2 separate regions of the Homo sapiens genome follow, and region 2 is linked to region 1. A link means that fine-mapping ties the variant in region 1 to the expression of a gene that starts in the linked region. Tissue or cell type: whole blood. Region 1 holds a variant in brackets; the other region holds the start of a gene. All regions are shown on one strand. Distances are from middle to middle.

What was found. PIP is the estimated chance that this variant, and not a neighbour inherited with it, causes the effect.
Region 2: it holds the start of NDUFC2, and the variant in region 1 is fine-mapped to the expression of NDUFC2 in whole blood (TOPMed, PIP above 0.99).

What each region holds. Positions count from the first base shown.
Region 1 is chr11:78,179,061-78,187,165 of GRCh38, forward strand. All of the region lies in intron 1 of KCTD21 (potassium channel tetramerization domain containing 21), which reads right to left. Among named protein-coding and RNA genes, the nearest start is that of KCTD21, 5.5 kb to the right of the region's middle. RefSeq lists an enhancer at 387-886. The variant G/C (reference allele first, on the strand shown) is at 4,379.
Region 2 is chr11:78,076,368-78,084,472 of GRCh38, forward strand. It overlaps NDUFC2 (NADH:ubiquinone oxidoreductase subunit C2), which reads right to left and starts at 3,495. Exons shown (of 3, transcript NM_004549.6): 1 at 3,212-3,495. The coding sequence starts at 3,377. It overlaps NDUFC2-KCTD14 (NDUFC2-KCTD14 readthrough), which reads right to left and starts at 3,495. Exons shown (of 3, transcript NM_001203262.2): 1 at 3,212-3,495. The coding sequence starts at 3,377. It overlaps LOC105369401 (a long non-coding RNA gene), which reads left to right and starts at 4,828. Exons shown (of 3, transcript XR_950342.2): 1 at 4,828-5,074; 2 at 6,963-7,165. RefSeq lists an enhancer at 3,215-3,274 and a silencer at 3,478-3,667.

The sequences.
Region 1 (8,105 bases):
CTAAAGCCCAGAGAACTTTGTAACTGGGCCTTTGAGTTCCTTGCTCCGGCCCACTCCCACCCTGAGGAGTGCTTTCTCACTTTAATTCCTGCTTTCACTGCTTCATTCCTGCATTTCATTCCCCTGCTACTCTTTTTATTTTTACTTTTTTTTTTTTTAGTAGAGACGGGTTTCACCACGTTGGCCAGGCCGGTCTTGGACTGACCTCAAGTGATCTGCCCATCCAGGCCTCCCAAAGTGTGGGGATTACCACGTCTGCCCCTCTGCTACTTTGTTCAAAACGCCAAGGACCTGGAAAATTCCTAGTCAAGACCCTCCACCAGTAACACAGGTACCAGAAGCCTCACCTGTGCCTTCCTCTGCCCCTAACTCTGCTGTGAACTCTTCTGAGCCACCCAACTGCCTGAGGGAAGCAGCCCCGACTCTTCAGCCCTACAGTTTGTCTTGACTATCTCCTTGAACCCATCCCTATAGCTACTCCCAGAGCTCAGGCCTCATCCCTGCCCCCTGCACCCCTACATCCTCACTCGGCTCCCTGCCTTCTGTCCACCTTCCTTTCTGGTCTGCAGACTGACCTTCCTGAAGTACCGTCCCTGCCCAACCACCTTCCTCTTTCCCTCTCATGTCTAACCCTGCCCTCCACGCACGCCAGACGCCACTGAGTCAGTCTCCTTCATGCTGACACCTGCCCTGCCTTTGCTGTCCCTAGACCACCCCTGTCTACCTTCTCTACCCTCTCTGCTGTCTACCTTTCAGGCCCAGCCTATGAGTCATCACCTCTGTACTACTGTCCCCAGATCTCCACTAGGTTAACAGCTCTCCTCTCAGGGCTTCCTGGTGCCTTGCACAACCCCCTCTGGCAGCACCCAGCATTCCACCTGCAGCGATCTCCTTTGCACATGGCCCTCTTCCCTGGCTATCTCAAAATGCAGATCAGTGGACATCCATATGGGGAAAAAAAGAACCTTGGTCCATCTCTTATGCTGTTTATGAAAAATAAACTCAGAACATATCATAGACCTAAATATAAAATCTAAAACTACACAACTTCTAGGAGAAAATCTTTGCAACTGTGGATTAGGCAAAGATTTCTTGGATAGGACCTAAAAGGGACAAACCATTAAAAACATCAATAAACTAGACTTCATCCACGTAAAAAACTTCTGCTCTTCAAAAGACACTGTTAAGAAAATGAAAGAATAAGACACAGATGGAGAAAATATTTGCAAAACACCTATCTGATAAAGGATTGTTAACCAGAATATATAAAGAACTCTCAAAACTCAGTAAGAAAATAACCCAATTAAAAAACACATAAAGCTGGGTGCAGTGGCACATGCCTGTAATCCCAGCACTTTGGGAGGCTGAGGCGGGCAGATCACTTGAGGCCAGGAGTTCAAGAACAGCCTGGCCGACATGGTGAAACCCTATCTCTACTTAAACAAAAACAAAAACAAAACAACTAGACAAAAGATCTAACAAATACTCCAGCAAAGAAGATATGCAGATGACTGACAATCACATGAAAAGATGGTCAATATCATCAGTCATGAGAGTATGAAAATTGAAACCACAATTATATGCTACTATATACCTATTAGTGGCTCATATAAAAACTGACAATGCCAATTGAAGGTGAGTACATAGAACAATGGAAACCTCATACACTGCTGACAAATGGTAACCGCTGTTGAAAATAGTTTGACATATGGTATGGTTTGGCTCTGTGTCCCCACCCAAATCTCACCTTGAATTGTAATAATCCCCATGTGTCAAGGGCAGGACTAGGTGGAGATGATTGAATCATTGGGGCGGTTTTCCTCATGCTGTTCTTGTGATAGTGAGTTCTTAAGAGATCTGATGGTTTTATAAGGGGTTTCCCCCTTCGCTTGGCACTTCTCCTTGCTGCTGCCATGTGAAGAAAGACATGTTTGCTTCCCCTTCCACCATTATTTTAAGTTTCCTGAGGCCTCCCTAGTCCTGTGGAACCGTGAGTCAATTAAACCTCTTTCCTTTGTAAATTAGCCAGTCTGGGGTATGTTGTTATTAGCAGTGTGAGAATGGACTAATACAGCATACAATTATCACGTGACCCAATGACCCTACTCCTAGGTATTTATGCCGGAGAAATGGAGACATATGTCCATGCAAAGACTCATATGTGAATGTTTATGGCAGCTTATTCATAATTGCCCAAACTCAGAAACAACTAATTGTAAACAGATAAATTGCAGTACATCCATACAATAGAATATGACTCAGCAATATATAGGAACTACTAAAAGACATTACCACATACATGAATTTCAAAAGCATTACGTCAAGTGAAAGAAGCCAGCCTCAGAAGGTTACATGGTACATGACTCTATCTGTATAACGTTCTGGCAAAGGCAAAACTATAAAGACAGAAATCAGATTAAGTGAATTCTTGGGGCTGGGTTGGAGGGAAAAGACTGGTTACAAAGAAACACAAGGCATATTTTGGAGTGATGGGAATATTCTATTAGGTTGGCACAAAAGTAATATGATGTGGTGGTGGTCAAATGTGTTTATAAAGACTGTCAAAATTCATGTAACCATACACATCTAAAAGGGTGAATTGTGGCCAGCTGTGGTGGTTCATGCCTATAATCCCAGTACTTTGAGAGGCCGAGGCAGGAGGGTCACTTGAGCCCAGGAGTTCAAGACCAGCCTGGAAAACATAGTAAGACCCCTGTCTCAATTAAAAAAAAAGTGTAAATTTTACCATACTTAAGTTTTACCTCCATAAACAGGAAAAAAAATGAAGGTTGTGACCTATTGGCAAGTCATGACATCAATACAGTTAAGTGGGTTGTAACCAATTATATATTGTTGTGAAACTTTTGTTTCAGTTGTGTGTCTATGAACTGGATCATGGTATCTTCATACTGTGGCTGACAAAACAATTTTTTTTGGAAACCACTGCCTAGTTTGTGAGCTGAGAGCAACTGCATGTCTCACGTCTGCATAGTCACCGCCTTGCACTCAGGGGAGGGGTTGTGTGATACTGTGATATAATAAGCAATATACATTTTAGATTTGTCCCCAGCTGTTGGCCAGGGCTAAAAACTGTGTAATTTCCCAAGTGATAATAGCTATAGGAACTTCTTCTATTTTAATAATTGGTTTTGTCCCAGTAGGTGGAGGTTGCAGTGAGCCAAGACTGTGCCACTGCACTCTGGTTTGGGTGACAGAGCCAGGCCTTATCCCAAAGCACCCCCCCCCCCTCAAAATTAATTATAGTTGTTATGCTATCCTAATCCAAATCCCAATAGTATTTTTCAAAAAAGATTTAAATAATTAAAATTTTAATCTGGAAGCACTGATGACTGATAACCTGAAAGAGTATTTGAATAAGACATCTTAGCGCAATGTATTAAACTAGATTATAAAGCAATGACATTTCCCTCTGTGGTTTTAAAACAATGAGAAGAGAAGGAATTTGGTAATAAATGTGAAGAGACACAACTAGCAATGTTTAAAAATAAACATATTGATAAATATATTGATCCTTACAACTCTGGGACCCAGGCAGGACCGATTACATTGTCTTTGTTTCAAAGACAACCTAAAGCAGACCCAAAGAGCGTGAATCCCTTGCCCAGGGCTTCATGTGGATTCTTGACCTCAGAGTCATGGCCTCTGGGAAGTTCTGGTTTGGACACCCTTCAGAGAACCAGTCCTTTAGACGTCTTCGGCAGGAAGCTGAACCCAGCCACAGAGGTCCTAGCCAACAGTCTGTATACTCATGGCGACCTGGAGTAGGCAAGAGCTCTTTTCTGTGCAATTTCCTTTTTTCCTACATTACTGTCCACTTCCATAATGAGCATTACTTCCATAATGAAATGACTTACCATGCAATCCTGTCAGTGGGGACTAGCTGTTGTAACAATAAATGTACTGAGTAATGAAAATTGTCCATCTATCATCTATCTATCAATCACCTATCCATCATTTCCTAGCTCTGCTCACTCACAGAGCCTAGAAATGACACCCAGTAGCAATAAACACACCTAGCCCTGGATCTTTGTTTCTGAATGTCATCATCTCTTCTAAAAGAAACCAGGGCTTCCTGGAGAAACTGATGATTCCTGGACTTTCACAGGAAAAGTTCAAGGTGAGTTCATATAGCCCAGTGAATTAAAAAACAACAACAACAAAACAAGAGTCCAGGCTGGGTGCGGTAGTTCATGCCTGTAATCTCAGCACTTTGGGAGGCCGAGGCGGGCGGATCACCTGAGGTCTGGAGTTCAAGACCAGCCTGGCTAACATGGCAAAACCCCATCTCTACTAAAAATACAAAAAATAGCTGGGCGGGGTGGCGTGCGCCTGTTATTCCAGCTACTTGGGAGGCTGA[G/C]GCAGGAGAATCGCTTGAATCTGGGAAGTGGAGGTTGCAGTGAGCCAAGATCGTGCCACTGCACACCAGCCAGGGCAACAGAGTGAGACTCCATCTCAAAAACAAACAAACAAAAAACAAGAGTCCATAATGTTATTCCCAAAAGAAAAAAGAGGGTGAGAAGAAGGGAGTGAGAAAGATAGAGACAGGAAAAATTAATTCTTTTTTTTTTTTTTTGAGACGGAGTCTCACTGTCGCCCAGGCTGGAGTGCAGTGGTGTGATTTCGGCTCACTGCAACCTCCGCCTCCCAGGGTTCACGCCATTCTCCTGCCTCAGCCTCCCGAGTAGCTGAGACTACAGGCGCCCGCCACCTCGCTCGGCTAATTTTTTGTATTTTTAGTGGAGACAGGGTTTCACCTTGTTAGCCAGGATGGTCTCGATCTCCTGACCTCGTGATCCGCCCGCCTCGGCCTCCCAAAGTGCTGGGATTACAGGCGTGAGCCACCGCACCCGGCCAGGAAAAATTAATTCTATAAAAAAGAACACTAATAAACACAGAAGGAATGGCAGAATTAGAAAATTACCAATTTGCAACCCTCAGTGTTGTAATTCAAGCAAGGATCATCCAAGGATGTGGTGTGAAAGGTTATCAGGAACACATAATTATAACAGACTCAGAGAATCACTTCACAGATTACTTATTAATTGTAAGAGAGAAAAATTTACCTTTACGATAGAGAGATCAGGTTGCCATGACCTTAATAATCAAATTTAGCATTCATGGATAGTAAGACCCTGACATCATATCCTCCTGACATGCAGTAAGTACACACATTGCCAAAAACTTAAATCTAACCCCAATCTAATCATTGATAAACCAATCAAACATATTTAAATAGGTGGAGAAGCTCTATTTATTTATTTATTTATTTATTTGAGATAGAGTCACACTCTGTTGCCCAGGCTGGAGTGCAGTGGCACAATCTCGGCTCACTGCAACCTCCACCTCCTGAGTTCAAGCAATTCTCTTGCCTCAGCCTCCTGAGTAGCTGGGAGTATAGGCACACACCACCATGTCCGGCTAATTTTTGTATTTTTACTTGAGATGGGGTATCACCATGTTGGCCAGGCTGGTCTCGAACTCCTGACCTCAAGTGATCTGCCCACCTCAGCCTCCCAAAATGTTGGGATTACAGACATGAGCTACCATGCCAAGGGGCTCTATTTAGATTAAATGAGTTGATAAAAGAGATATAATAGGATGCAATATGTACATCTTGACTGGATCTGATTTTAAAAACCAGAAACTATATAAGGTATTTTTGGGCAATTAGAATTTTTTTTTTCTTGAGACAGGGTCTCACTCTGTCGCCCAGGCTGGAGTGCAGTGGCGCGATCATGGTTCACTGCAGCCTTGACATCCCCAGGCTCAGGTGATTTTCCCAAGTAGCTGGGACTACAGGTGCACGCTACCACACCATGCTAAATTTTGTAGTTTTTGTAGAGATGGGGTTTCACTATGTTGCCCAGGCTGGCCTTGAACTCCTGGGCTCAAGCAATCTGTCTGCCTTTGCTTCCCAAAGTGCTGGGGTTATAGACATGACCCATTGCACCTGGCAGAAAATTTTGAATAACTATTACATTGGGTAATACTGACTTCTTGCTTATTACATATAATGTATTATGGCTATGTAGTAGAACGCCCTTATTAGGGGATACATGTTGAAGAATTTAGGGGTCAAACGTCAATCAACATATCTGTAACTTACTTTTAAATAATTGGGCCAAAAAAGTGTGTGTTTGTGTAAAAGCACAATTGGCAAATTGTGATTTGGCGTATCTAGGTTAAGGGTTGTACTTTAAGCTTTTATGTAAGCTTGAAAATTTTAAAAATATTTGTATTTTAAAAGAGGGGGGAAGAACACTTCTTCATAGGGCCAATAGATGTAAAGTTACAGTCATTGTGCCAGACCCCAATAAGTCGCCAGATTTAGTAAGTTACAGATTTACTACTACTACTTAGAAGTGTGAAAAGCTCATAATTTTCCTTCCCAAGTGTTTCTGAATTTTGAAGGGTGAGGATGCCAACCAGGGCTAAGTGGTGGAGGAGTTAGAATCTAAGCCTGGGTGGGCAGTCTGGATAGAGCCACCACCCACAGAAACCACACCACTAGGCCTATTTTTTTTTTTTGAGATAGAGTCTCGCTCTGTCACCCAGTTTGGAGTGCAGTGGCGTGATCCTGGCTCACTGCGACCTCTGCCTCCCAGGTTCAAGTGATTCTCCTGCCTCAGCCTCCTGAGTAGCTGGGATTTCAGGTGCGTGCCACCATGCCCGGCTAATTTTTGTATTTTTAGTAGAGACGGGGTTTCACCACGTTGGCCAGGCTGGTCTCAAGCTCCTGACCTCAAATGATCCACCCACCTCAGCCTCCCAAAGTGCTGGGATTACAGGCGTGAGCCACCGCGCCCGGCCAGGTCTGCCTATCTTCTGTGCTGTGATTCTGCCTGGAAGAAGATGGCTGTTCAGGCCTTGTTTTTCCTGCCTCATCATGAACCCAGAATCTCTGTAACTCGGCAGGAAAGAAACTCCTGTCATGACTCACTGTGAATGTTGACAAAGAGAGGCCACTCCTGGGCCTCAGAAATGTCAAGGATGGGCAGAAAGAACTGGAGACAGGCCAGGCTCAGTGGCTCATGCCTGTAATCCCAGCACTTGGAAGGCCCAGGTGGGAGGATCGCTTGAGTTCAGGAGTTTGAGACCACCTGGACAACATAATGAGACCTCGTTTCTATAGAGAAAAAAAAAAATTAGCTGGGCATGGTAACACGTGCTTGCAGTCCCAGCTGCACAGGCTGAGGTAGGAGGATCGCTTGAGCCTGGGAGGTCAGGCTGCAGCAAGCCGAGATCACGCCACTGCACTCCAGCTTGGGCAACAGAGTAAGACCCTGTCTCAAAAAAAAAAAAAAAAAAAAAAAAAAAAAAAAAAAAGAAAAGAACTGGAGAGGCTGTGTGGGGTAGGGGCAGACCATGCATGGTATTCGGCATTACCTGGGTTTGCATTTGAATCATCCCCTGCCACTTACTAGCTGTGCAGCCCTGGGCACGTTCCTGGGCAGATGATGATGATCATAACAACAACAAACACTACAACGGCAATAATAATGGCTAACGTTTATTGAGCAGTTACTACCGTGCTAGGCACTCTATACATGTTAATCTCTTTCAATCTCACAGATTAAGTAGATACTATTATATACCTACTTTACAGACCAACCATACTGGGCCCTCTTCGACTTCTGCAATTTGGCATCTGCCATCCCCTCTGCCTGGACCTTGAAGACAAATCCCATGCATCGGCCAGGTCTCTCAGCTGGAATTCATTCCTTCTCCTCTGCATCTGCGGAGAATTTTAGTCTAACCCCTTACCACAGCCAACTTTACTTAAGTAGATGGATGCCTGGCTCCCTTGCTGGGGCTGGGGGTGCCCCTTTCTATATCCACAGAAGCACGTAGAATAGGGGAAGAGGAAGAAATTTCTCTCCTGTTTAGTCAGATCCATTTTCCCCACCTGGATTTTCAAAACTTTTTAATTTTGAAATGCTCTGTTCAATTTTCAATCTGGAATCTAAAGGGATGTGACAAGGCCGAGGTGATTACTTGGGAGTAAATGCAAGGAGAGTTTCCACTGCGTAAGGGAATGGACAGCACGTGGCTGGGTAAATTTCAAAAAAGACAATGCTCAGAGT
Region 2 (8,105 bases), 100 kb before region 1:
TTGACTTCAGGTGATCCACCCGCCTCAGCCTCCCAAAATGTTGGGATTACAGGCATGAGCCACCACACGTGACCTCACTCAATACTTACTGAACACCTACTATAGATATTAGACACTGAGCTAGATAAACACAATATGCATTCAGTAAATGCTGTTGAGGACAACCATTTCAACAAAGTCCTAGGACCTAAATCTTCCAAAGCAATTTAGGGAAGCTCTGGGAACTCAGGAAGTCTGATCCCTACTCCTGGGCTAAGCAGTTTATATTCATTATCTCATCCAGTCCTCAGAGATAGGTAACTTCCTCAGAATCAAATTACTAGTAGGGTGGAGGTGATGTCAAACCCCAAAGCATATGCTCTTAACTGCTATACTCTTCTGTCTCCCAGAAAGGCACAAACGGCTAAACTAACAACGAGATTAAGTGGTACATACGTCACATTTCAGCCAACCTTTACTTCCTCTAGAGCATTCTCCCTCCCAACTGTATCTCCTTTGTGCTCCTAAAGTGCTTTCTGCTCACCCACCTCTATCAAAACATGTATCTATCATACCAAGATCAGCAACAGGCTGTTTACCTGTTTGTCTCCCTGATTTCACTAGGAGCTCCATAGGGCACATAACAGAGAAACAGTTAAGTAAGGCCAGGCACAGTGGCTCACACCTATAACCCCAGCACTCTGGGAGGCCGAGGTGGCAGGATCACTTGAGGCCAGAAGTTTGAGACCAGCCTGGCCAAGATGGCAAGACCCCATCTCTACAAAAAATTTTAAAATTGGCCAGGCCTGGTGGTATGTACCTGTAGTCCCAGCTACTTGGAAGGCTAGGATAGGAGGATCGCCTGAGCCCAGGAGGTCGAGGCTGCAGTGAGCCATGAGTGCACCACTGCCCTCTAGCCTGGGTGACAGAGTGAGACCCTGTCTCAAAAAAAAAAAAAGGGTTCTGTAAATGAACAATTTACAAATATATGGTAAACTGTTTGCATAACAAGAGCTAAGGAAGGGGAACTCTGTCCAGCACCTTTTGCATGTCAGACATTTTACCTACAGAATCTCACTCAATTCTCACAACAAATATGCAAAAATTAATTATTCTTATTTTATAGATGAGGAAACTTTGGCTCTGATCGACCTGACCATGTAACTTGCCCAAAGTGACACAGCTGGAAAGCAGCAGAGCAAGTCTGTTTATTTATTTATTTATTGGAGACAAGGTCTCAACTTTGTTGCCCAGGCTGGAGTGCAGTGGTGCAATCGTGGCTCGCTGCAGCCTCAACCTCCTGGGCTCAAGTGATTCTCCTCCCTTAGCTTCCTGAGTACCTGGGACTACAAGTGCACATCACCATGCCTGGCTAATTTTTTAAATTTTTTTGTAGAGACAGGGTCTCACTATGTTGCCCAGGCTGGTCTTGAACTCCTGGCCTCAAGAGATGTTCCTGCCTTGGTCTCCCAAAGTGCTGGGATTACAGGTGTGAACCACAGTGCCTGTGCCTAGTGAGCAAGTTTGTTTAGTTCCAAAGTGGAGCTCTTTTCATTACACCAAGTGACAGTCTTGGGCAAATATGAAGTGGTGATGAAAAGGGAAAACCTCGAGTCCTCAGAGGCATAAACGGACAAAGATGACTCCTTTCTGAAGTGAGGAGTTATGTCCAAGGGAGATAGGACTTCAATACTATTTGAGCACTGGAAATGTGGGATTTGATGGGTTGGGAGCTGACCTTCAGGCATGACATACAGCTGTAAGAAGGCAAAAGAGGTACAAGTGTGGTGACTCCTAATTGCCTGAACCATTGCCTGAGCTTTTTTCCTGATTGTGCTTCTTGGCTCCAATCAACGCCTCACATTGCTGACAAAGATGACTTTTTAAAATACAGAGCTCATCACTGCACCCTTGCAGCTCTCAAAAGCTTACAAAGTTCCTGACTGCCTAGAAAATAAATTGCCATGCTCTGCTAAAATCTCCCTTGCAGTTTTATCTAAACCTGAACACTCACTCAATCATCAAACACCCTCCATTCAGAGGTCCTTGCCCCCATTAGCTCCCACTAGCCCCACGGGCCTAGAAAGCTGTCTGTCTCTCAGTCCTGCCTGATAATCAAAGTTAACTTCAAAGACCCCTCTTCCAAAGTTCCTCTCCTCTTTTCCCTCTGGAAATCCATAGAGCTTAGCAAAGCTACTGTGGTGGTTATTATCAGAATAGTCAGTGTCTCTGATAGGAAGCCAGTGACATACTACTGGGAAGTACAGCACACTGGTTTAGAGCCTCCTATTCAAACCGTGGTCCTCAGACCAGCAGCAGCAGTGTTTGAGCGCTTGTTGTTAACATCAAGTTCCTCCCCAGACCTCATGAATCAGGATCCGCTTTTTTTTTTTTTTTGAGACAGGGTCTCACTTTGTTGCACAGGTTGGAGTGCAATGGTGCAATCTCGGCTTACTGCAACCTCTGCCTTCCAGGCTCAAACGACCCTCCTGCCTCAGCCTCCCTCAGCCTGGGACCACAGGCGTGCACCACCACGCCCGGCTAACTTTTGTATTTTTTTGTAGGGACGGGTTTTCGCCCTATTGCCCATACTGGTATCGAATTCCTGAGCTCAGGCGATCCGCCCGCCACGGCCTCCCAAGGCGCTGGGATTACAGGTGTGAGCCACCTCGCGCAGCCCAGAATCCGAATTTTAACAAGACACCTATGCTATTCGTATGCACATTAAGTTTGAGAAGCACTGGTGTCCAATATCCATTCAGAGGTCAAAAAAAAAAAAAACCAAGCTCTGCTACTTAATAGCCATATGACCTTGGGCAAGCTGCTGTTAATCTGTTAGGCTCGGTTTCCTCGTTGTGAATAATACATCCCTAAAAGTGTTTTAAGGCCGAAATGCTATCAATAATGCCCACAGTGTGAGTAGTGCATGGCATGGAGTCATGGCTCATTTGCGCACACAGCACAACACGAACTGAGGAGAGTAGTTTCGGGTCCTTCACAGACTCAGTTCCTGCTTCACTGCACCTCAGTTTCTTCAAGTGCCAAATGACACTCTGGCTCTGCTTGATTCTAAAGAGCTAATGGGGCGCGGACTCCCCGGAAAGGCGAGATGGGGCCAGCTAGGCAAAAAGGCACGGAAAAGCAGAGCACCTCAGGGGGGCCTACGGCCGGGCCAGTCTGCAGCCCTACGACCCCTTCTCCTCCCAGCCGATCCCGGCCGCGCAGCACTCACCAGCCGTCGCGATCGGCCTCCGCCGGATTAGGTTATCAATCAGGCCGGAGCAGTAGCCCAAGAAGCCGATGTAGAGGAGCCGCGGGTCGGTCAGCTTGGGCGGGGGCAGGCTCCGGGCCTCATCCGGCAGAAACCGTAAGGGTTCTGGGTTCCGCCGTGCGATCATGGTGACGCCGTTTCCACTTGAGGCCTGGTCTCAGACCACGAACTACAAGGAAAACCACGACGACCACTACCCCGGCCTAAGCGGTCAGCTTTCTCCTCCTCCTCTGCGCGCCGGACTCACGGGCACGGCGCAGCGCGGTGCAGCGCCCAAACGCTTCCCGGTACGTGTTGCTGCGGGAACCCGGCACGCGAAGTTCCGGGCTACTAAGTTTCACTTTGCTCGTCCGCCCGCGCTAATTCTCTGGTGGGAGTGGGATTCACGGGCCTGGTAACGCGGGGTCGAGGAGTACCCCAAACGAGCCAAACTGGGCGAAGACTAGGAGATACTGATTTTCTTTTCTCCCAACTTCCCCAACCAGAATTGCCTCTCCCTCCCCTGCCCCTTCTGGAAAGATTTATCTTTTCATCCAATACCCACAAATGGGCATGATGCGTAGTTTTGATAAACGTAATTAATTGAAATTCCATAAAAGCTAGTTTTCGTTTTCTGAGTTTTCAGTCGTTCATTCGCATAGACACTCCCTCCAAAGCCTAAAATTAAGGTCTGGCCAGCAACAAAAGAATTTAGAGAAGCCCAGGACTGGATCGTTTTAGTCTATTGTTGAAATTCAGATTCGGAGGCAGCACCCTAAAATGTTTCACCTCTGGGTCTTCACGTCGTTACACATGGCTGAGTGAGGAGGTGTTCCCTAAAGGTTTGAGTAATGAGGCCAGGCGCCGTCACTCACGCCTGTAATCCCATCACTTTGGGAGGCTGAAGTGAGCGGATCACTTCAGGAGTTCAAGACCAGCTTGGCCAACATGGTGAAATCCCATCTCTACGAAAAATACAAAAAATTAGCTGGGCGTGGTGGCGGGTGCCTGTAGTCCCAGCTACTGGGAAGGCTGAGGCAGCATAATCGGCTGCTCGGGAAGCTGAGGGGGGAGAATCGCTTGAACCTGGGAGGTGGAGGTTGCAGTGAGCCGAGATCGCACCATTGCATTCCAGCCTGGTCAACAAGAGCGAAACTTCGTCTCAAAAAGAAAAAAAAAAAGGTTTGAGTAATGAAAGAAGGAATTTATAATTCTGTTAAGCAATTTTCCAGTCTCTGCTGTCAGGCCTCTCAGCCGAAGCTCAACCATTGTAACCCCTGTGACTTGCACATATGCGTCCAGATGGCCTGCGGGAGCCAAGAAGTCTGGGGCAGCCAAAAACCCACAAAAGAAGTAAAACAGCCACTTCCTGCCTTAACTGATTAACAAACATTCCACCATTGTGACTGGTCCCTGCCCTACCTTAACTGATCAACCATCCTTGTGACATTCTTCTTCTGGACAATAAGTCTTATGATCTCCCCATCATGTACCTTGTGACCCCCTCCCCTGCTAACAATAGATAACAACCACCTTTTACTGTAATTTTCCATTACCTACCTAAATCCTATAAAGCAACCCCTTCCCCATCTCCCTTCATTGATTCTCTTTTCGGACTCAGCCCACTTGCACCCAAGTGAATAAACAGCCTTGTTGCTCACACAAAGCCTGTTGGTGGTCTCTTCACACGGATGCATTTGACATTTGGTGCTATGACTTGGATCGGGGGACCTTCCTTGGGAGATCAATCCCCTGTCCTCCCGCTCTTTGCTCCGTGAGGAAGATCTACCTACGACCTCGGGTCCTCAGACCAGCCCAAGGAACATCTCACCAATTTTAAATCGGGTAAGTGGCCTCTTTCTACTCTCTTCTTCAACCTCTTTCACTATCCCTCAACCTCTTTCTCCTTTCAATTTCGGCACCACCCTTCAGTCTCTCCCTTCCCTTAATTTCGGTTCCTTTCCCTGTCTGGTAGAGACAGAGGAGACCCGTTTTATCTGTGGACCCAAAACTCTGGCGCTGGTCATGGACTCGGGAAGACTGTCTTCCCTTGTGTTTAGTCACTGCAGGGACGCCTGCCTGATTATTCACCCACATTTCAGAGGTGTTCGATCACTGCGGGGACACCTGTTTTGATCTTCCACCTTGGTGGCAAGTACCACTTCCCCTGGGTGGCAAGTACCACCCCCCCTCTCTCCATGTCTCAACCTCCTCCTTTCTCTAAACTTACCTTTTTACTATGGGCAACCTTCAGCCCTCCATTCCTTCTTCTTCCTCTCTTAGCCTGTGTTCTTAAAAACTTAAAACCTCTTCAACTCTCACCTGACCTAAAACCTAAGTGTCTTATTTTCTTCTGCAACACCACTTGGCCCCAATACAAACTTGATAATGGCTCTAAATGGCCAGAAAAGAGCACTTTCGATTTCTCCAGCCTACAAGATCTAGATAATTTTTGTCATAAAATGGGCAAATGGTCTGAGGTGCCCTACATCCAGGCATTTTTTACACTTCGTTCCTTCCCTAATCTCTGTTCCCAGTGCGACTTGCCGCAAATCTTCCTTCTTTCCCTCCCGCCTGTCCCTTCAGTCCCAACCTGAAGTGCCGGTGAGTCTTTTGAATATTTCTTTTCTACCGACCCATCTGACTTCTACCCTCCTCCCTAGACTGCTCCTCCTCAGGTCGCTCCCCACCAGGCTGAATCAGCTTCCAACTCTTCCTCAGCCTCCACTTCCCCACCCTACAACCCTTCTATCATCTCCCCTCCCCACACCTGGTCCAGCTTACAATTTCGTTCTGCGGCAAATACTCCCCCACCTGCCCAATAATTTCCTCTTCAAGAAGTGGCTGGAACTGAGGGCATCGTCAGAGTGCATGTACCATTTTCTCTATCAGACCTTTCCCAAATTAATCAACACTTAGGCTCCTTCTCGTCAGACCCCACCAAATATATACATGAATTCCAGTATTTAACCCAGTCTTACAATTTAACCTGGAGTGGCTTAAATGTCATCCTAATTTCTACCCTCTCCCCAGATGAATGGGAAAGAGTGTTTCCTCTAGCCTAGTCCCACACAGACACCCACTGGCATTATGAGCCAGGCCTCCAGGAAGGTATTACAGACGGTTCCCTGAGAAGATCCCCAGTGGCACTATCAGGCAGGTTCCTCAGGTATAGCTAGGTGAGATTACATGATTTCCTGCCTAGTTGAAGGGCTTAAAAAGGCAGCATACAAATCTGTTAATTATGACAAACTTAAAGAAACTACCCAAGGTAAAGATGAAGACCCAGCCCAGTTCATGGCCTGTTTGGTGGCTACCCTTAGATGCTTTATAGCCCTAGACCCTGAAGGGCCAGAAGGCTGTCTTATTCTTGATATGCATTTCATCACCCAGTCAGCTCCTGACATCAGAAAAAAGCTTCAAAAATTTGAATCTGGCCCTCAAACCCCACAACAGGAATTAATCAACCTCGCCTTCAATGTGTACAATAATAGAGAAGAGGCAGCCAAGCAGAAACACATTTCTGAGTTACAATTACTTGCCTCTGCTGTGAGACAAAACCCAGCTGCACCTCCGGCACACAAGAACTTCAAAATGCCTAAGCTGCAGTGGTCAGGCTTTCCTACAGGACCTCCTCCCTCAGGATCTTGCTTCAAGTGCCAGAAATCTGGCCAGTGGGCCAAGGAATGCCTGCAGCCCAGGATTCCTCCCAAGCCATGTTCCATCTGTGCAGTGACCCACTGGAAATCAGACCGCCCAGCTCACCCGGCAGCCACTTCCAGAGCCCAGCCCCTAAAGCTCTGGCCCAAGGGTCTCTGACTGACTCCTTACCAGACCTGCTCAGCTTAGTGGCTGAAGACTGACGCTGCCCAATCACCTTGGAAGCCCCCTGGACCATCATGGATGCCAAGCTTCGGGTAACTTTCACAGTGGAGGGTAAGTCTGTCCCCTTTTTAATCGATACAGGGGCTACCCACTCCACATTACCTTATTTTCAAGGACCTGTTTCCCTTGCCCACATAACCATTGTGGGTATTGACAGCCAGGCTTCTAAACCTCTTAAAACTCCCCAACTTTGGTGACAACTTGTACAACATTCTTTTATGCACTCCTTTTTAGTTATTCCCACCTGCTCAGTTCCCTTATTAGGTTGAGATGTTTTAACAAAATTATCCACCACCCTGACTATTCCTGGACGACAGCCACATCTCATTGCCACCCTTCTTCCCAACCCAAAGCCTCCTTCACTTCTTCCTCTTGTATCCCCCCACCTTAACCCACAAGTATGGGATACCTCTACTCCCTCCCTAGCAACCGATCACACACCCATTACTATCCTATTAAAACCTAATCACTCTTACCCCCCTCAGTGCCAGTGTCCCATCCCACAACAGACTTTAAAGGGACTAAAGCCTATTATCTCTCGTCTGCTACAGTATGGGCTTCTAAAGCCTCCAAACTCTCCTTACAATTCCCCCATTTTACCTGTCCAAAAACCGGACAAGTATTACAAGTTAATTCAGGATCTGTGCCTTATCAACCAAATTGTTTTGCCTATCCACTCTGTGGTGCCCAACCCGTACACTCTTTTGTCCTCAATACCTTCCTCCACAACTATTCCGTTCTTGATCTTAAAGATGCTTTTTTCACTATTCCCCTGCACCCCTCGTCCCAGCCCTCTTTGCTTTTACCTGGATTGACCCTGACACCCATCAGTCCCAGCAACTTACCTGGGCTGTACTGCCACGAGGCTTCAGGGACAGCCCTCATTCCTTCAGCCAAGCTCTTTCTCATGATTTACTTTCTTTCCACCCCTCTGCTTCTCACCTTATTCAATATATTGATGACCTTCTACTTTGTAGCCCCTCCTTTAAAT